Homo sapiens: one gene and its partners. The protein of the gene in region 2 purifies or fractionates together with the protein of the main gene of each other region. This does not show direct contact. Each region holds a gene or a part of one and is shown on either strand. Other genes may lie near its edges. The genes, in order: CUL2, ZER1, TCP10L and MGME1.

The links.
Region 1: the proteins of ZER1 (region 2) and CUL2 purify together in Homo sapiens (affinity purification with western blotting; 2 studies listed by BioGRID and IntAct, with this or other methods). This does not show direct contact.
Region 3: the proteins of ZER1 (region 2) and TCP10L purify together in Homo sapiens (co-immunoprecipitation; one large-scale study listed by IntAct). This does not show direct contact.
Region 4: the proteins of ZER1 (region 2) and MGME1 purify together in Homo sapiens (co-immunoprecipitation; one large-scale study listed by IntAct). This does not show direct contact.

The regions. Positions count from the first base shown.
Region 1 is NC_000010.11:35,034,116-35,039,349, reverse strand, and holds part of CUL2 (cullin-2), read left to right. Parts: intron 1-267; coding exon 268-430; intron 431-4,053; coding exon 4,054-4,178; intron 4,179-5,234.
Region 2 is NC_000009.12:128,764,859-128,770,092, forward strand, and holds part of ZER1 (protein zer-1 homolog), read right to left. Parts: intron 1-5,234. UniProt on the Homo sapiens protein: Serves as substrate adapter subunit in the E3 ubiquitin ligase complex ZYG11B-CUL2-Elongin BC. Acts to target substrates bearing N-terminal degrons for proteasomal degradation with the first four residues of substrates being the key recognition elements.
Region 3 is NC_000021.9:32,574,566-32,579,799, reverse strand, and holds part of TCP10L (T-complex protein 10A homolog 1), read left to right. Parts: intron 1-968; coding exon 969-1,106; intron 1,107-2,876; coding exon 2,877-3,026; 3' UTR 3,027-5,234. Other genes in the region: CFAP298-TCP10L (uncharacterized protein LOC110091775), read left to right, coding at 969-1,106, 2,877-3,026. UniProt on the Homo sapiens protein: May be involved in transcriptional regulation. Has in vitro transcription inhibition activity. Acts as a tumor suppressor in hepatocellular carcinoma (HCC) cells.
Region 4 is NC_000020.11:17,985,135-17,989,670, reverse strand, and holds part of MGME1 (mitochondrial genome maintenance exonuclease 1 isoform 2 precursor), read right to left. Parts: intron 1,506-4,536; coding exon 1,373-1,505; intron 1-1,372. UniProt on the Homo sapiens protein: Metal-dependent single-stranded DNA (ssDNA) exonuclease involved in mitochondrial genome maintenance. Has preference for 5'-3' exonuclease activity but is also capable of endonuclease activity on linear substrates.

The DNA of each region.
Region 1 (5,234 bases), on a different chromosome or scaffold from region 2:
AATGGTGTAGGTAAATGAAGACAAAATGCAGACTATTTAACTTTAGTTCTTGCTTATAAGACTGGTGGAATGTAGATGACAGCTAGTAGCTTAAATAAAAATTTGAAATGATTTATAGAATGTGGGTTTAAATTGCTTATGTAACCCTTATTACCTTTGCCATGTTTAATTCAGCCATTAAAATTTGGCTGAGTTACTTGCTGATATTACAGATTTTTCCTCATAGTAAAACTTTGTGTTCATGACTGTAAGAAAATATTTTTATAGGTTCTAGGTAGATTAAAAGATGAAGAAATTCGATGTCGAAAATACCTACATCCAAGTTCATATACTAAGGTGATTCATGAATGTCAACAACGAATGGTAGCAGACCACTTACAGTTTTTACATGCAGAATGTCATAATATAATTCGACAAGAGAAAAAAAATGGTAAGTGACACCAAACATGAGTAGAAATTAAATTATAAATCCACCTTTTATATCATCCTCTAGTCACCCTTGATTTAATGCCTATTTTAGTAATAGTCTTTAAAATATTTTAAATAACCTTTTACAGATTATTAATACTTTATTTTGAAAGACTATTTTAGGAAAGTGTTTTCAGAGTGTTCTAAAATCAGAAGAAAAAGTGGGAAATTGTGTTTATACATTTTTATATATTACAAGAGCTAATTTCCTTAATGCATTTAGAATTCCTGATAAACAGTAGGAATAAAGGCAAAGACTATAAAAAGGAAATACAAATATTATGTAATAAATGTAATAATTTATATAATATAAAAAATCAGCTATATCTGATTTTTTTTTTTTTTTTTTTTTTTTTGAGACAGAGTCTCACTCTGTCGCCCAGGCTGGAGTGCAGCGGCGTGCTCTTGGCTCGCTGCAACCTCCGCCTCCCAGATTCAAGTGATTCTCCTGCCTCAGACTCCTGAGTAGCTGGGATTACAGGCGCTCATCACCACACCTGGCTAATTTTTTTGTACTTTTAGTAGAGACAGGGTTTCACCATGTTGGTCAGGCTGGTCTCGGACTCCTGACCTTGTGGTCCGCCCGCCTCAGCCTCCCAAAGTGCTGGGATTACAGGCGTGAGCCACTGCGCCCGGCCTCTCTGATTTTTAAAAAAACAAAAAACATGCATTACTTTTATAGGCAGGAAAGATAATAAATATGTATATTTTATTTAATTAATTAATTTTTTTGAGATGGAGTCTCGCTCCGTCGCCCAGGCTGGAGTGCAATGGCATGATCTTGGCTCATTGCAACCCCTGCCTCCCAGGTTCAAGCAATTCTGCCTCAGCCTCCCAAGTAGCTGGGATTGCAGGTGTGTGCCATCACATCCAGCTAATTTTTGTATTTTTAGTAGAGACGGGGTGTCACCATGTTGGCCTCCTGGTCTTGAGCTCCTGACCTCAGATAATCTGCTTGCCCCGGCCTCCCGAAGTGCTGGGATTACAGGTGTGAGTCACCGCGCCCGGCCATTAATCAGGCTTTTTGTTTTTGTTTTTTGAGACGGAGTCCCGCTCTGTGGCCCAGGCTATAATGCAGTGGCGCGATCTCTGTTCACTATAACCTCTGCCTCCTGGGTTCAAGCGATTCTCCTGCCTCAGCCTCCTGAGTAGCTGGGACTACAGGCATCCGCCCCCACACCTGGCTAATTTTTGTATTTTTAGTAGAGACGAGGTTTCACTATGTTGGCCGGCTGGTCTCGAACTCCTGAGCTCGTGATCCACCTGCCTTGGCCTCCCAAAGTGCTGGGATTATAGACACGAGCCACCACCCTTGGCCCCGTGTTTTTTACAGCAACATTAATTTCATAGATCCAGGGCAATGTAGTCAAAACCCAATAATTTCATTTTAATTCCGAAAGTCACTGTCTTGAAGAGTATGATGGAAAGACTTTAATGACCAGCAAGACTTATTGTAAAACCTATAGTAATTAAGACAGTGAGGCATTGGTACAAGGACAGACAGATATCCTAATAAAATAAGAGATCCTAGAAACAACCCAAGCATATGTGGCCACTTGATGTAAGACCAAGGTGGCGCTGCAGAGCGGCAGGTAAAAGATGGTCTTTTCAACACGCATTGCTCAGTCAATTGGATATCCATTTCAGAAGAAAATGAAATTTGATCACTACCTCAAGATACCATATACAAAATCAATTCACTATTGAGTTTTTTCTCTAAATGTACAAGGTAAAAAAATAACACTTCTAGAAGATAATATAGAAGAATATCTTCATAACCTTGAGACAGGGAAAGATATTTTAAATAGGACACAAAAAGCCCTAACCACAAAGGAACGATTGATCCAGTGAACTACATTAAAATGAAAAACTTTGGATTATTAAAAGGCCATTAAGAGGGAGGAAGATTGCTTGAGCTCAGGAGTACAAGACCAGCCTGGGCAACATGACAGTATCCCATCTCTGCAAAAAAATACAAGCATTAGCCAGGCGGGGTGGTGTGCACCTGTGGTCCCATCTACTTGGGAGGCTGAGGTGGGAGGATCACTTGAATCTGGGAGGTGGTGGTTGCAGTGAGCCGAGATCCTGCCACTGCACTCCAGCCTGGGTGACAGAGTAAGACCCTGTCTCAAAAAAAGCCATTAAAACCACTGGATCATCAGAAGACAGTTATAGGGTAATGTACCTGCAATACTAAAGATTTATATCCAAAATATAAAATGCTCAAAAAACAGGCACTGCAGAATAGAAGATACCCAGATGGCCAATAAACATAGAAAGAAGTGTGAAGTAGCAGGAACTTGTTGAACACTGAAGTGAGAGTATAAATTGATGCAACTACTTTGGGAAACTGGCACTGACCGCTAAGTGGGATATATTATGCATATTTTATGATCCAGCAGTTCTCCTAAACATATAACCACCCCCCAGCTTTACCTCCCCACTGCCAATGCCTGGACATATATACAAAAAGACATACAGGAATGTTCATAGTAGTGTTTGTAATAGCTCCATAAACTGGAACAGCTCAAATGTCCAGTTACTGTAGAATAGTACAGTATATTCATACAATGGAATATTATAGAGGAGTGGAAATGAACAAATTAAAGCCATGCACAACAACATAGATGATCCTTATACACATGTTGAACACAAGAAGCCAGACACGAAAGAATTGTGTGATCCCATTTTTATACGTAGTTCAAACTCATCTGTGATTTAGAAGTCACAGCAGTGGTTACCTTTGCAGAGGAGCAAGAGTGTGTGATTGGAAGGAGGCATGAAGGGGACTCCTGGGTGTAGGTAATGCCTGTTTCTTATCCTGCGTGTGATTACATGGGTGTGTTGTGTGTTCACTTGTGATAATTCAGTAAGATATACACTTATGGTTTGTATACTTTTCTGTATATGTATGATGCTTTAATGAAACGTTTAAAATTAAACCTACTACACTGAGAGATCATTATTCACCTCCCAGTGTTAGAGATCAAAACATTTGGCAACACATTGTTGGCAAAGGAACTCTCTGCTGTTGGCAGCTGTGGTTAGAAGGATCTGTCTACAAGATTAAACTTTGACACAGTAACCTCACTTTTGGGAACTTATATTGCATATATTCTTGCTCATGTATAAGATTATTGATTGCAACATTGCAATATCAAGAGACTGGAAACCACCTAAATTTCCATCAGTTGTTAAGAAATTATATCCACATAATGGAGTACTGTGCAGCTGTAAAATACATAGAAATGCTTTGTGTACTGATAGGAAAAGACCACTAAGTTAAAATGTGTTCTGAAGCTACAAATAATATACAAAATACAGTACACTGTATTAAAAGGGGCAAAGGGAAGAATATATGTATTCACTTGAATTTGCACAAAATATCTTTGGGAAGATGTTAAATAACCACATCCCTTTCCTGTGGGGAGAGGGGCTTGGGTGGCTGGGAGGTGGGCATGGGGGACTTTTCTCTGGGTGCTCTGCACTTGGATCCGTATATTGTACTCCTGCACTTGGATCCATATATTACCTAATAAATGAAAATATTTGGGAGTTAACCCTCAGATGTCTTTTTCCTCTCAGACATGGCAAATATGTACGTCTTACTCCGTGCTGTGTCCACTGGTTTACCTCATATGATTCAGGAGCTGCAAAACCACATCCATGATGAGGGCCTTCGAGCAACCAGCAACCTTACTCAGGAAAACGTGAGTTGTGTGGGAAACTGCAATGTTTTCCTCCTAATCAGATCCAGCGTGGAGCCTTTCCTTTGACTTTATTGTTTTGAAAGATGAAAGAAAAAGTCTTACCATGCCAACGAAAGAAATGTCTTTATTCAAATGTTTTAAACCTAGAATTTGTTGGACTCATTTTGGAATTATCAGATTATTAGAAAGCTATTGATAGGCTGCTGCTTAGCCATACGGAGGGTGTCCATTGAACAGTTGTTAACTTTCCACAGGAAAATAAGCTCGCCATTTTTAAATAACTGTGTTTTTGTGTAATTGGCATTGATAACGTAGTTTGTTGTCATGGTAGTAGTATTAATCAGTGGTAATATAGACGACTTGCAATTTGCCTCCTTTCCATATCCTCTGAATTTGGTTGTCCAGGAAGCAAATTTAGATTAAAATAATCTTCTGTAAGTATATGCTTGCTGCCCCAAATACCCAAAACAATAACCCTCATATCCCTAATACTCATCTTTCTCGAATACTTTGCCAATCACATGACTGTAACAGTTTGTACTGTAACAGTTTGTCTTTCCCATCACCAAATCTTGTTATTACTGGTAATGTTTGATGAGCAAGAGAGAAATAACTTCAAATGTTACTGTCTCTTCTTAAGTAGAGCTGTTTGCCCTTCATCTATAAGATAGTATCTGTGTATAGACGTCACTGTTCAGGAGCACTTTTTAGAGGCTGTTACCTTAGCTGCAGATTGGTTTTTGGCAAGTAATAATTTTTAGTTTTTATGTTATGCCACAATAATGTGTAAGTTTTCTATTTTTTTATTTCTTCAAATTCCCTTTACCACAGTTTTCTATTTTTTGTAGAACTATTAGTTTATAGTATTCAGGTTTATTACTCTATTATTTGTCAAACTTACTAGTTTACATTATTACGTTTATAGATTCCATGTCCAATGACATTGGGCATAGAAGCATCGAATTTTGTGTCAAGGCTGGGAGATGGAAACATAAGTGAATACATTTGTGGTAGACTCAAATCCAACTGACTTAGTTAAGTCTTAGGTAGTAACTT
Region 2 (5,234 bases):
CATCCCTTTTCTTGCATGTTCTCTAATACTAGGTCTATCATGAACATTCGACATCCTGGGGAATGAAGGAAGTGGGAGAGAAGAGAGAGAAAAACAGCACCAGCAGCAGCAGCAGCAGAAGGCACCGCCATACCACGTCCATGTTGGCTGCTTCCAGATGTGGTCCTAAGCTCCTTACAGGCTTTACTCCCTCGAGTCTCTTACTCAACCGACAAAATATTTCCTAGTACCCTGTACTTGCAACTAATTAATCATTTACATAACAATTTGTCAACTGACACCCTCCTACTGCCTGTGAGCTCTGGGAGGACAGAAGCTGTATGCTTGCTTGCATGCCTGCATCCATGCACATGTACACACACACACACACACACACACACACACACACACACGTGCGCAAGCGCGCACGCACCTGTATCCTTGGTGTCTGACTTCGGTGCCCAATTTATGCCTGGTGTTTAATAGAACAAAGGTTTGCTGTGGCTGGAATTCCCTTACTCTAGTACTGCAAGATAGAGATTATTACCCCATTTTCTGATGAAGATACTGACGCATACACAACTAAGCAGAAGCTTGCCTGAGATCACAAAACTGATGAGAGTGGGATGCAAACCTAAAGCAGACCCCCGCTTCTCACCAAATATTTGGTCTTCAGTCCATCCATCCAAACAATGGGAGGGAAAGAGAAACTGAAGTCTGGAGGTGGGAGCATGGGATCCCACCAGTGTCCTGATACCCAGAGGACAGAGAGGTTGGGGGAGCCAGAAGCTCTGAGCCTTGGAGCAGTACTCACCCTGTGAAATATTAACCTAGGAGCTGGGGGGAAAACCCAAACAAATGCCCTATTTACAGAGGCTAGACGCTTTCCAGGAGGCAGCAGATCAAGGGCCAGAGACTGGGGGTGTGAGGGGAGTCACAGCAAGTGTGGGGATCTCCAGGTGGTCGGGAAACAGGTGAAAACCAGACGCCACCTGGCTCTGAAAAGTCTGCAGAGATTAAATCTATGAGTTGGGTTATGTCAGAAAGATGCAGACACACAATAATTGGGGAGTGTGCCTCACAGCTAGGTGGCTGCTCATGATGCTGGAGACAGAGAGGCCTTGAGGAGGCTGCATTCGGCTAGTAATCAGACTGGTTGGGTTCTATTCTTGTAACCAAATGTATTAATGATCCTACCCATACTGAATACCAAGTATATACCAAGAATTCTGGCTGGGCGTGGAGGCTCACGCCTCTAATCCCAGCACTTTGGGAGGCCAAGGCGGGCGGATCACGAGGTGAAGAGATTGAGACCATCCTGGCCAACATGGTGAAACCCTGTCTCTACTAAAAATACAAAAATTAGCAGGGCGTGGTGGCGGGCGCCTATAGTCCCAGCTACTCAGGAGGCTGAGACAGGAGAATTGCTTGAACCCGGGAGGTGGAGGTTCCAGTGAGCCAAGATTGCACCACTGTACTCCAGCCTGGCAACAGAGCAAGATTCCATCTCAAAAAAAAAAAAAAAAAAAGAACTCTGTTAAGTATTTTATATGTGTTAATTAATTGAATTCTCTCAACACCCAACAAGGCAGGAGTTACCATCTACAACTTACAGAAAAGGCAGCTGGAAGGAAGGGGCTATGGCTATGCAATTTGCCAGAGACTATGGATCTGAACAGACAGATATGTACACAGGTAGTTCATTAGTTCAAGACGCAGTGTGTCAGGCTGGGCACAGTGGCCTACGCCTGTAATCCCAGCACTTTGGGAGGCCAAGGCAGGTGGATCACCTGAGGTCAGGAGTTCGAGCCCAGCCTGGCCAACATGGTGAAACTCCATCTCTATTAAAAATACAAAAATTAGCCAGGCATGGTGGCGGATGCCTGTAATCCCAGCTACTTAGGAGGCTGAAGCAGGAGAATCGCTTGAACCTAGGAGGCAGAGGTTGCAGTGAGCCGAGATTGCACCACTGCACTCCTGCCTGGGTGACAGAGCAAGATTCCGTCTCAAAAAAAAAAAAAAAAAAAAAAAGACCCAGTGTGTCCAGCTTTCCAAGCAGTTCGCATCAAAGTCACAGATAACTTATTTATTTATTTATTTATTTTTCTTTCTTTTTTTTTTTGAGATGGAATTTTGCTCTTGTTGCCCAAGCTGGAGTGCAATGGCACAATCTCGGCTCACTGCAGCCTCTGCCTCCTGGGTTCAGGCAATTCTCCTGCCTCAGCCAACCAAGTAGCTGGGATTACAGGTGCCCGCCACCATGCCAGGCTAATTTTTGTATTTTTAGTAGAGACAGGGTTTTGCCATGTTGGCCAGGCTGGTCTCGAACTCCTGACCTCAGGTGATCCACCTGCCTCGGCCTCCCAAAGTGCTGGGATTACAGGTGTGAGCCACTGCGGTCGGCCTATTTATTTATTTTTCTTTTAAGAGACAGGGTCTCACTCTGTCACCCAGGCTGGAGTGCAGTGGTACGATCTCAGCTCGCTGCAACCTCCACCTCTCACGTTCAAGCAATCTCCCACCTCAGCCTCTGGAGTAGCTGTGACTACAGACGTATACCAACAGACCTGGCTAATTTTTTTATTTTTTGTAGCGATGAGGGCTCACCATGTTGCCCAGGCTTGTCTCAAACTCCTGGGCTCAAGCAATACGCCCACCTCAGCCTCCCAAAGTGCTGGATTACAGGTGTGAGCCACCGCACCCAGCTGCCACAGATAACATTTTATCAATATGATAATACATTATCATTTTGTTTCCCAGATAAGGAAACAATGGTTGAAAGATGAGCAATGAGTTGTTCCTCCGGTAAGTGTGTGACCCTAAAGTTCGAGCCCCTTGCCATTATGCTATGGGGAGGGACCATTTCTCCAACCTCAGCTTTCCCTTCTGTTCCACGAGCCTCCGCCGCTTCCTTACAACTCAGGCACTGAGCTCACATGATCCAGTACTGCTGGTAACCACTCCGTGGCATGTCATTTTTTGGCCACAGCATTGAAAGCTTCCTGAGGGCAGGGACCCTATGTGATTTCTGGGGTCTCCATTACAGAGTATGTGAGTGGCTCAATGCCAGTGACAGGGCCTCGGCTCCACAAGATCCCCAGCCAATGTTTTCCAGCCTCAATATTTATCAAGGTCCTTACCTGTCAGCATGTTGCGAGTGGCACACGCTGTGTTGCGCGTGTTGTGAACAGGGTTGCTGAGGAGATGCCATGAAAGGATGGCAGGAAGGTGGTAACCAATAATTATGAAGAGTGATGTTCCTGAGAATAATGCTTCAAGAGACCCTTCTGCATCTCTGAAGCTGGAAAATCAGTTTCAGCGATTGCGCCAGATATAAGACAGTGGTCCACAAATAGATAACCAGACAGGGGTCTCTGCACTCACCTCTCAGGACTCCAGAACAGATGAGGTACTGAAGCCAAGCAAAAAAACCAGAGTGCCAAGAGCAGTCTTCCAGCTAGTGGGCCCCCAAAACGTGTCTGCATAATCCTAGTGGTACTAATGATAATACCTTTGTAGAGAGCTTCAGAACACACCTAATTCTTTCACAAGCTGTGTCTCATTTCATCCTCCCAACAGCCTTTAGAGTTAGTCGGAGGCAAGGGAAGGCCATTATTCTTAATCTACAAATAGGAAAACTGAGGCCCAGAGAGGAGATGGAACCTGCCTAACTCACACAGCAAGCCAACAGCAGAGCCGGGATTTGAACCAGGTCCGCAGGTCACCAGCCTGGGGTTCTACCCACAACAGCCTACCCCAACATGCTGGCTCTCAGCTCCTAAGTGCTCTGACCTTTCATTTTCAAATTCTCTGGCCCAGTTGCCCTGCTCAGCCTGTGTCCCAGGCCTGAGGATATAGTCCGGGCTTGGGGTATAAGGAGGGAGATCAACTGTGGTTCTGCTTCCTATAAAGCAGGCTGGAAAGTCTCAGCCTCTGCCGGGCACTTCCGGATCACCAGCCTCTACCCGTAGATCAGCCACGCACACTCCAACCACATATCTAGGCCCAGCATACACTGCCCCTCCCCACCTGTCTCCAAGTCACATTCATTTCAACACCCTCATTTTGCCTATTTTACGTGGTAGAATGGAAATTTGCTGGGCTCATTTTAATTCTTTTTTTTTTAGAGATAGGGTTTCCCTATGTTCTCCAGACTGGTCTCAAACTCCTGGCCTCAAGCGATCCTCCCAAAGCGCTGGCAGTGCTGGGCTCTTTTTTAAAAGTCCCCATCACCCTCCGCTGCTGTCAGAAAAGCCAGGACCAAGCTAACGTCTTCTCTGCAGAATATTAACCCAGTTACCTCTGAGGGGTGTCAAGAAGTTTCTGTCTTGCTTTCCCCAATATTTCCTCAAATCCTACTAGTTGATGGAGGCAGCTAGAGCTGGTGACACCACCAGCTAGTGCTAAAACGAACGGCTCTGAGGCAGACATACATGCCCACATTCCTCATCATCACATCATCCTCATCAGCGTGACCGCTATGTATTGAGCACTTTGTGTGAAATACTGCATTAAGCACTTCAGCCCATGATTTTATCTAATCCAACAGCCCTATTTTCTTTTCTTTTCTTTCTTTCTTTTTTTTTTTTTGAGATGGAGTTTCGCTCCTGTCGCCCAGGCTGGAGTGCTGCAGTGGCATGATCTCAGCTCACTTCAACCTCCACCTCCCAGGTTCAAGCGATTCTCCTGCCTCAGCCTCTCCAGTAGCTGAGATTACAGGCATGCGTCACCACACCCGGCTAATTTTTGTATTTTTAGTAGAGATGGGGTTTCACCATGTTGGCCAGGCTGGTCTCGAACTCCTGACCTCAGGTGATCCACCTGCCTCCCAAAGTGCTGGGATTACAGGTGTGAGCCACCACACCCAGCCTGCTGTATTTTCCAGATGAGAAGATTGAGGTGGAAAAAGGTCCCGTGCCCACCTTCTCACAACCAGGAAGCAGCGGCATAACTTAACTTGATTTAATCGCAGTTCTCTGTGACCATGATTCTTTGTATTTGTTCCATCAATGGTCATTACAAAGATGGAAGAAGGGTACTTACAACCGAAGCCCCAAGCACAATGGCCATTTGTCATCTAAAACAAATCTGTATTTTCTCCAACCACCAGACACTTCAACAAGTACGGTTCTGAAAGGGTGTCCCATTAGACACCCTGTGACCCTGTATCACAAGGACAGCCCCTGATGTCTTCCCCACCTTTTTCTGGTCCCCACTGTTCTCTGACTTTCTTGCCAACCACTCTTCCCTTTCTT
Region 3 (5,234 bases), on a different chromosome or scaffold from region 2:
ACATATATTGTATGCCAGTTCCTAAAAAATAGTATCTACTGCCCCATTTGGGTCATTGTATAACAATTACCCTAAGAGTCAATGAAGTCTTATTCAGTCTTCACATGCCCTGCAGTTTTGATCATTCTCTTATTTTGAGATTAGAGCTTGGTGAATTTCCAAATATTTTTCCATTCTGTGCATTGCACTGGTCACCGTGGGGCTATTTATAAGAACAGGATGTACGCTCACAAGAGCATACCTGATTTGAAGAAACAGGATGGGATATGTGAATCCCACACTTTAAATATGCGAAGGTGTATCTGTGTGTAGTCGCCGTTTTAGGGACTGAATATCTAAAAGGCTGAGACTCGAGCACCCACAGAACGCGGGCATGGCTGTGTGGGTGAGCCACTCTGGATCTGATATTAAGGGTTCGTTCATAGCAACCCTCTCCCCTTCTCATTCCCTTCTCCTCCTCAGAGGGCAGAACGGTGAATAATTTAGCATTCCAGACCTAATATACCTCATCCCACCTGAAGGATCACCCTGTTCCAGGTCAGTCTGCTGATAACAGGGAAAGTTGGGAATTTGCATTTTGGATCTTAGACAAGTTGTAGAGACAACACTAGAAGTAGTATCACATTTTCTTCCTCCGTTAACACACTCCCGGTTGAAGACACAGGAGCCTAAAGGAAGATATGTTGGGGATTGTTTGTTCTGTAGCCTTTGGGATCCTGTGATCATTTTGAAACAAGGAACCACAATAAGAAACACAAAGCAAACATCGGCTCCACAAAGGTTCCTTCACAAACGCTTGGTGAGGGTTTCTGTTCTTATCAACATATTAGGGGGAAAACCCAGTCCAAGTCCCCCTACCTTGTACCCTATTTTTTTCTAGGACATTCCAATTATTCTTCATTGTATTAAAATTTGAATTTATTTTACCTTCGAAAATGTGAAGAATTTCCCTGCATTTTGTCTTTTAGGCATTGGAACCTGCTTTTGGAAAAATTTCACCTCTGTCAGCTGATGAAGAGACAATACCCAAATACGCTGGCCACAAGAATCAGAGTGCCACTCTCCTGGGACAAAGATCGTCATCTAACAATTCAGCTCCTCCAAAGGTGACCCTTTGTGCTTATCATCTGTAAAGAGAAGCAGAGGTTCTGTACCCAAACACACACATCCCATCAGCTCCTCACCACACAATTTCACCTCCCTGGGTGAGCATGGTGCTCCCTGGAGTCCTGTGTTCTTCCAAGGACACGGGTACATGCCTTTCAAACAAGATCCTAACCCTTAGCACTTCTTGCTGTGGAGCAGATTCCAAGTCCTCCCGGCTGCTTCCCTCTGAGTACACTCACAGCAGCAAGCGTCTGGCTGGGGCCGAGGGGACTTGGGGGCTTTGTTTCCGTGGGTGCAGGCTGCGGAGGTGATGTGTGTGGCACTGTCTCCACCCGTGAGTCTGAGGGCTCGCAGCCTCCCGTGCTCCCTGCTTCTGCACTGCGGTCTTGCACCTGCTGCTTGTCGGCGTGGACTCCTCTGAACAGGGGTGGCGCTGTTAGCTTGGGAGCCACAGTACAGGATGCTATTTTGTCTCTTGTTGGGAATAGGCCCCCAGATCTGGCCATAAACTGGCCCCAAAACTGGCCACAAACAAAATCTCTGCAGCACTGTGACATGTTCGTGATGGCCATGATGCCCACGCTGAAGGTTGTGGGTTTACCAGAATGATGGCAAGGAACACCTGGCCCACCCAGGGTGGAAAACCGCTTAAAGGCGTTCTTAAACCACAAACAGTAGCATGAGCGATCTGTGCCTTAAGGACATGTTTCTGCTGTGGATATCTAGCCAGAGCCCATCCCTTTGTTTTGGCCCATCCCTTTGTTTCCCATAAGGAATACTTTTAGTTAATCTATAATCTATAGAAACAATTTATCACTGGCTTGCTGTCAATAAATATGTGGGTAAATCTCTGTTCACGGCTCTCAGCTCTGAAGGCTGTGAGTGCCCTGATTTCCCACTCCACATGCTATACTTCCGTGCGTATGTCTTTAATTCCTCTAGCACTGCTGGGTTAGGGTCTTCCTGACCGAGCTGGTCTCGGCAGTCTCTATCACATTTTTCTTTGTTAAAATTAGCTCCTCTTTAGAACATTCTCCCAGCCAGTGTGTCTCTTCCTGTCCCAGCTTTGTGTCACCCTCATACTCAGGAAGCAAATCTCGTGAGTCCACAGCCAGCAACTGATACTGGGTTGATGTGGATGGAGAAGGCGCCCCCAACTCCTGAAGATGATTTATCCCCTCGCATTCTTTCCCAAAGCAACTGCTGAGCAGATAACACTTTATTCCCTGAAGGAAGATCAGAAATCTACTCCAAGCATTTGTCACAAGTAGGAAAAGAGCCTTTTCAGATCCTATGAGTACAAAACATCGTAAGTCCCAGGGTGGACTGCACAGGCCCAGCCTCCTGTGAGACGCGGACTTCTCTCATGCTCCATCATTGACCTGAGTTAATCACAGGCATGCGGGGCAATGTACGAGTAAATAGATAACTGAATGGGTGGCTTATCCACGCCTTGAAACCATCAATTGTTAAATAGTGCAAAATGTAGAAAATTATTTTTATTATGCATTTTTGAATTGAGTTTCAAGCACTTTATTTCACTGTTGACTTTACAATATCAGCCATGTATTGGAATCCCAAATTTCACAAGAGCGTGGGCTGTAAAATGGGGAATGAGAGACACTAAGTGTGGATACCTCATGTGTCCTTCTGTAGGAAGGGGGAGTAGAATCATCTACATTCTGTGATAGCTGGTATGATGTGTTGCTTAACATTTAAAAATAATATAATTGTTACTAATGCAAAAATATTCCCACATTTGTTTTCAGCCAATGAGTTTAAAGATAGAAAGAATTAGCTCGTGGAAAACACCACCACAGGAAAATAGAGATAAAAATCTTTCCAGGAGACGTCAAGACAGAAGAGCAACACCTACTGGAAGGCCAACTCCCTGTGCAGAGAGACGGGGGGGTGTCTGAAGATGGAAAGGTGGCCTCGGACACCTGTGTCACTCTACACTGGCCCCTTGGAAAATTCAGATTCAGATAAAGTTCCACTTAGGTCTAATAAAAGTACTCAATTTGTTATTCAAAATAGACCTAGTAATTTATTAAACTAATTATGTTTCTATAGATAAAAACTTGAAGTTCTTCAGACATGTCTCTAATGCTATAAAAGCAAACAACTTGGATTGGGTTTTATAAATCAGTTGCTTTCCTGAGCTCTGTAGTTGGTATATTTCTGCAGAGTCTTTAAAAAAATTAACCCACCTTGTAGTATGGAGTGTCGGGCTGTTGGGTGAGCCCTGGGGTCTTGCTGGAAATCGAGGATGGCTGAAGATGGCTTTGTGCTCCCAGCCTTTGGGCTCAAGGCATTGCCCGCTCCAGGGACCTTGTGACAAGGCGGGCCTGTGACTGTCATTGCCCCAGGCTATGCATCCATCTTCCCGAAGTCTGCAAAACTTGAGTGGCAGAAAATCACCAGTGCAGGCTTCCCAGGCCGCCATGCTGCAGGAGCAGATGGCAGCAGCCGGAGGAGCTGGTGAGCAGAGTTGGGGACTCCTGTTTCTATGCTCCCCGTGAAATGCGGGGCTTTCTCGTGGATACGCGTGAGCAGAACATCTTACTATGGCAAGGACATGTCCTTCCTGGAGCTGCCTAATTTGTGGCCACTTTTTGTCTGATTCCCTCGTTGGGTCCTCACCTGTGAGACTTGCCAACACCCCCAGCCCTCCACCCCACACACAGCCCACATGCCGGTCTCCAGGGGCCGTGACTGGAGATTCCGAATCCTAGCGGTCACTTCCCTCTGAGCACACTCCCAGCAGAAGGCGTGTGGCTGGGGCTAGATGCACTTGGGTGCTTTGTTCCCCTTTCTCCATTTGCCAGCCCATGGCATTGCTGCCACCCTGATGGAGCGCCCTCTCATCTGGCACCTTCCTGGCCTCTTTCCCAGGCCCCAGTTCTGTCCATGCAGCTGTGGGTGCTTCCTGCATTGCGGGTCTCACGGGGAGGAGACGAGAGTGCCCCTGGTTGAGTCAGGAAAGAATTCTATCTTCACGTCGCTGCCAGCAAATGACCACAGCAGCTTCACGACCTCTGCAGGAACCTATCTTGGTAAAGAAACGGGGCCTATGTGGTGGCCGAGCCTCAGGTGTGGCCGAGCTTCAGGTGTGGCCCTTATGCACAGCACAGCCCAAGCCTGTGGGCACCACTCGCCCTGGGCTGCCTGGCACCTGGACTCCTTCCCATCCTTGGCCGAGGTCTGCGTGGCCCTTCAGGGCCGAATCTGACACTGTCTTCCTCCTGAGTCTGCCCCCCGGGCTTCCTGCCCACCCCCAGGCTGTTTCATGGCCTCTGCAGGGAGCTTCGTAGAGGTGAGGCTGGTGCCATCTGTCTGCTTCAGACCACCTCAGGCTCTGCGTGCCCTCACAGTCCCCTCTGCACTTCTCTGTGGGGCAGGGAAGCCCTTCCCATCAGGTCTGCTCCAGCCTGGCTACCTTGTTCCTGCTGTCCCCTCCCCTTCAGGCCCCCGGACAAGACTTCAGTGTACTTGCTGGTGCCGGGCAGAATGGGGGACCTTGCCTCTCACACACACCTGCTAGTATCTCCGCAACCTCCAGGCATCATCTCAGCTGACAGTGACGCCATCCTGGGGAAGCTCCCCTGACTCCTGGCTCTCCTGGAAGCCTGTGGTGCTCCTTCACAATGGCCCGTGGCCCTTCATAGGTCCCGTAAGCCAGTGTCACAGGGATTCGGCTTTTCTCTTCTGTGTTTGCCTGCTGCGGGACTGTGAGCAGCTTCAGGGCCAAGACAGTGCCTTTCCATCCGTGAATCTCCTGATCCATCAGAATACTCGAAAGAGAAATACCGACTGAGTGTATTCATTAAAGAATTAATGTTCCTTACAGGATCATTTGTTGTTGAACTGACCTGACATGTGTATAGTAATCTCATGAACAAGAAAGAATGTGTTCACACGTTTGCTTAAATTGAATTTAGCAATCGCATTAGGATACTGATATTTCCACAATGTATATACACTATCCTTTTAAATTTAACTTATTTGCTTTTTAGACGGAAGCTCCTCAGTCTTAGAGAGTTCTGAAGGTGGATTTCTCAGCCACGTTCAACCTGATGAGTTCACTGCTTCTTCCCCAAACATTGCAGAGCTGCAGGTAGGTGGGC
Region 4 (4,536 bases), on a different chromosome or scaffold from region 2:
CTTTTTTGAGACAGGATCCCACTCCCATCGTCCAGGCTGGAGTGCAGTGGCACAATCTCGGCTCGTTGCACCCTCGAAGCTGAGGCGGGCACCACTTCCGGCTGATTTTTCTATTTTTAGTAATGATGGAGTTTTGTCACGTTGCCCAGGCTGGTCTTGAACTCCTGGGCTCAAGCAATCTGCCCACCTCGGCCTCCTTCAAAGTGCTGGGATTACAGGCATGAGCCACCACCCCTGGCCAAAAAGTGCTATTTATTTATTTATTTATTTATTTATTTATTTGGAGAGAGACAGTCTTGCTCTGTTGCCCAGGCTGGAGTGCAGTGGAACAACCTTGGCTCACCGCAACCTCCGCCTCCTGGGTTCAAGCGATTCTCCTGCCTCAGCCTCCCAAGTAGGTGGGACTAGAGGCACACACCACCACGCCCAGCTAATTTTTGTATTTTTAGTAGAGACAGGGTTTCGCCATGTCAGCCAAGCTGGTCTTGAACTCCTGACATCAGGTGATCTGCCCAACTCGGCCTCCCAAAGTGCTGGAATTATAGGCTTGGGCCACCACACCTGGCCTATTTATTTATTTTTGAGACAGGGTTTTGCTCTGTCGGCCAGGCTAGAGTGCAGTGGTACAATCTCGGCTCACTGGAACCTCCACTTCCTGGGCTCAAGCAATCCTCCCACCTCAGCCTCCCAAGTAGCTGGCACAAGTGTGCGCCACCATGTCCAGCTAATTTTTGTATTTTTTTTGTAGATACGGGGTTTCACTATGTTGCCCAGGCTGGACTCAAACTCCTGAGCACAAGCAATCTGCCTGCCTCGGCCTCCCAAAGTGCGTGAGCCACTGTGCCCAGCCAAAAAGTGCTTTTTTAAGTGGGAAAGGAACAAGGAAGACGTTAAGCAATGGGATAAAAATAGAGATTAAAAAAGGAAAAACCTCAAGGAGTTCTATTTTTTAACTTTTTTTTTTTTTACAATTTTTCTCCTCCTACCCCCCCACTGAGAAGTTTTTTTTTTTTTTTTTGAGACAGATTCGAGATGGAGTCTCACTCTCTTGCCCAGGCTGGAGTGTAGTGGCGCAATCTTGGCTCACTACAACCTCCACCTCGCGGGTTCAAGCAATTCTCCTGCCTCAGCTACTAGAATAGCTGGGATTACAGGCATGAGCCACCATGCCCAGCTAGTTTTTGTATTTTTGGTAAAGACAGGGTTTCACCATATTGGCCAGGCTGGTCTTGAACTCCTGACCTCAAGTGATCCACCGGCCTTGGCCTCCCAAAGTGCTAGGATTACAGGCATGAGCCACTGCGCCCGGCCCGGAGTTATAGTTTTAAGTAAGCATTGAGCAAAGCTTTAAGTAAAGGCTCAGTGTCCTGACCTGAAAGCTGTAGTTGGTATCATGGTTCATGGCACCCATGTATGCCACAACTTGCAGTGGGTTGTCAAATGTACTTTGAATAAAAGGCTTTGGTTTCTCTGATGTCTTCCAATCAATCACACAGAGCTTGCCCCTAAAGAGAAACCACAGGAAGACTTTGTAGGTAATAGATCACAATGAAAATCTCTACTAGGTTAACAGTTCTCTTATGTATAGTTTGTTACTTGTCAGCCAATGACCATTGCTCTTATTCACCATTTTTTTCCTTTTTTAAAAAAGAGATGGGGTTTCATATGTTGCCCAGGCTAAACGCATACTCCTGGGCTCAAGTGATCCTCCCACCTCAGCCTCCCAAGTAGCTGGGACTATAAGTGCACCCCCCCACTTTTTCTCCCTCTTTTTTTGCATCAAATAACCAGTGGATTCCTCCCCCCATCCCCTATCCTGGTCGGGTTTATACTTGCCAAATGCAAATATCAAAAGGATACAGAGAGTGGACCAGTAACTGGTGACTCTCAAAGGACTCTATCGGTTCAATCTGTCTTTCATGACTTCAATTTCAAAATCAGCAGTTTATAGGGAGATTTTGTACAAAGCATGTATATTACTTACATGTCACTATAGCTCTAGACAGTTACACCTCATGCAAACTCAGTCTAGAGCAGCACTGGCTAAAAGAAGTAAAATGTGAGCCATGTGTCATTTTAAATTTTCTAGTAGCCACATCGGAAAAGAAAAAAAAAATACAGCTGAAATTTTAACATTTTACTTAACCCAACATATCCAAAATATCATTTCAACATGTAATCAACTAACAAATGATTAATGGGATATTTTACGTCTTTTTTTTATTATAGGGATATTTTACATTCTTTTTTGTACAAAGTCATTGAAATGTAGTTTGTATATTGCTATAGCACACCTTAGTTTGGCCTGACCACATTCAAATGCTCAATAGCTATAGGGGTTAGTGGCTACTCTACTGGACAGTTTAGGTTTAGAGATAATTTTATTGTCTTCAGAATTGTTTTGTAATATTGCCAAGTTTGACAATCTGTGTAGTTGAGAAAAGGGCCCCAGTAACTCTAGGATGCCATTCCTGGTTCTTCTTTTTTTTTTTTTTTTTTTAGATGGAGTCTCACTCAGGCTGGAGTGCAGTGGTGTAATCTCGGCTTACCACAACCTCCGCCTCCTGGGTTCAAGCTATTCTTCTGCCTCAGCCCCCTGAGTAGCTGGCATTACATGTGTGCGCCACCTCGCCCAGCTAATTTTTGTATTTTTAGTAGAGATGGGGTTTCGCCCTATTGGCCAGGCTGGTTTCAACTCCTAACCTCAAGTGATCCACCCGCCTTGGCCTCCCAAACTGCTGGGATTACAGGTGTGAGCCACCATGTTATATTTCTGCCACAGAACACTGTTTGCAGCAATGTACTGTAATTGTAGAACTTAATAAATGTAAAAAAAAAAACCTTAATAGCATTCTGAAAACTATAAAATATTGATGAAAGAAACTGAAAATGATACAAATAAATGGTAAGATATCCTCTGTTTATGGACTGGAAGAATATTGTTAAAATGTCCATACTATCCAAAGCAATCTATAGGTTCCACGCAATCTTTATCATAATTCCAATGGCAGGCCAGGTGTGATGGCTCACACCTGTAATCTCCAGCACTTTGGGAGGCCAAGGCAGGTGGACTGCTTGAGCTCAGGAGCCCGAGACCAGCCTGGGCAACATGGTGAAACCCTGTCTCTATAAAAAATACCAAAAAATCAGCCAGGTGTTGTGGCTGGAGCCTGTTGTCCCAGCTACTCAGGAGGCTGAGCCCAGGAGGTGGAGTTTGCAGTGAGCCGAGATTGCACCACTGCACAACAGCGTGGGTAACAAAGCCAGACCCTGTCTCAGGAAAAAAGAAAAAAAAAAAATTCTGCCGGGCACGGTGGCTTACACCTGTAATCCCAGCACTTTGGGAGGCCAAGGTGGGCAGATCACCTGAGGTCAGGAGCTCCAGACCAGCCTGGCCAACATGGTGAAACCTCGTCTCTACTAAAAATACAAAAATTAGCCAGGCGTGGTGATGTGCCCCTGTAATCCCAGCTACTCGGGAGGCTGAGGCAGGAGAATTACTTGAACCTGGGAGGCAGAAGTTGCAGTGAGCTGAGACTGTGCCATTGCACTGCAGCCTGGGCGACAAGGGTGAAACTCTGTCTCAAAAAGAAAAAAAAATTCCAACATCATTTTTCACAGAAATAGAAAAAAAAAAATCCTAAAATTAACACGGAACCACAAAAGACTCCGAATAGCCAAAGCAATCTTGAGTGAAAAGAATGAAGTCGGAGGCATCACACTGCCTGATTTCAAAGTACAGTCATGTGTAGCTTAATGACAGGGATATGTCCTGAGAAATGCATGGTTAGGCAATTTTGTCATTGTGCAAACATAGAGTATATTACACAAACCTAGGTAGGATAGCCTACTACACACCCAGACCTTTGCTCCTAGGCTACAAACCTGTACAGCATGTTACTGTACTGAATACTGCTGGCAACTATAACACAATGGTAAGCATTAGTGCATCTAAACACAGAAAAGGTACAGTAAAAATGTGGTATAAAAGATAAAAAACAGTATACTTGTATAGGGCACCTACCACGAATGCAGCTTGCAGGACTAGAAGTTGCTCTGGGTGATTGAGTGAGTGAGCGGTGAGTGAATGTGAGGGCCTGGGACATTACTGTATACTACTATAGACTTTATAAACACTGTACACTTACGCTACACTAAATTTATAAAAAACGTTTTTCTTTCTTCAATAATACATTAACTTTAGCTTACTGTAACTTTTTTACTGTATAAACTTCTTTAATTATTTTGAGATGGTGTTTCACTCTTGTTGCCCAGGCTGGAGTGCAATGGCACAATTTTGGCTCACTGCAACCTCCACCTCCCAGGTTCAAGCGATTCTCCTGCCTCAGCCTCCCAAATAGCTGGGATTACAGGCATGCACCACCACGCTTGGCTAATTTTGTATTTTTAGCAGAGATGGGGTTTTGCCATTTTGGCCAGGCTGGTTTCAAACCCCTGACCTCAGGTGATCCACCCACCTTGGCCTCCCAAAGTGCTGGGATTACAGGCATGAGCCACCATGCCCGGCCACTTCTT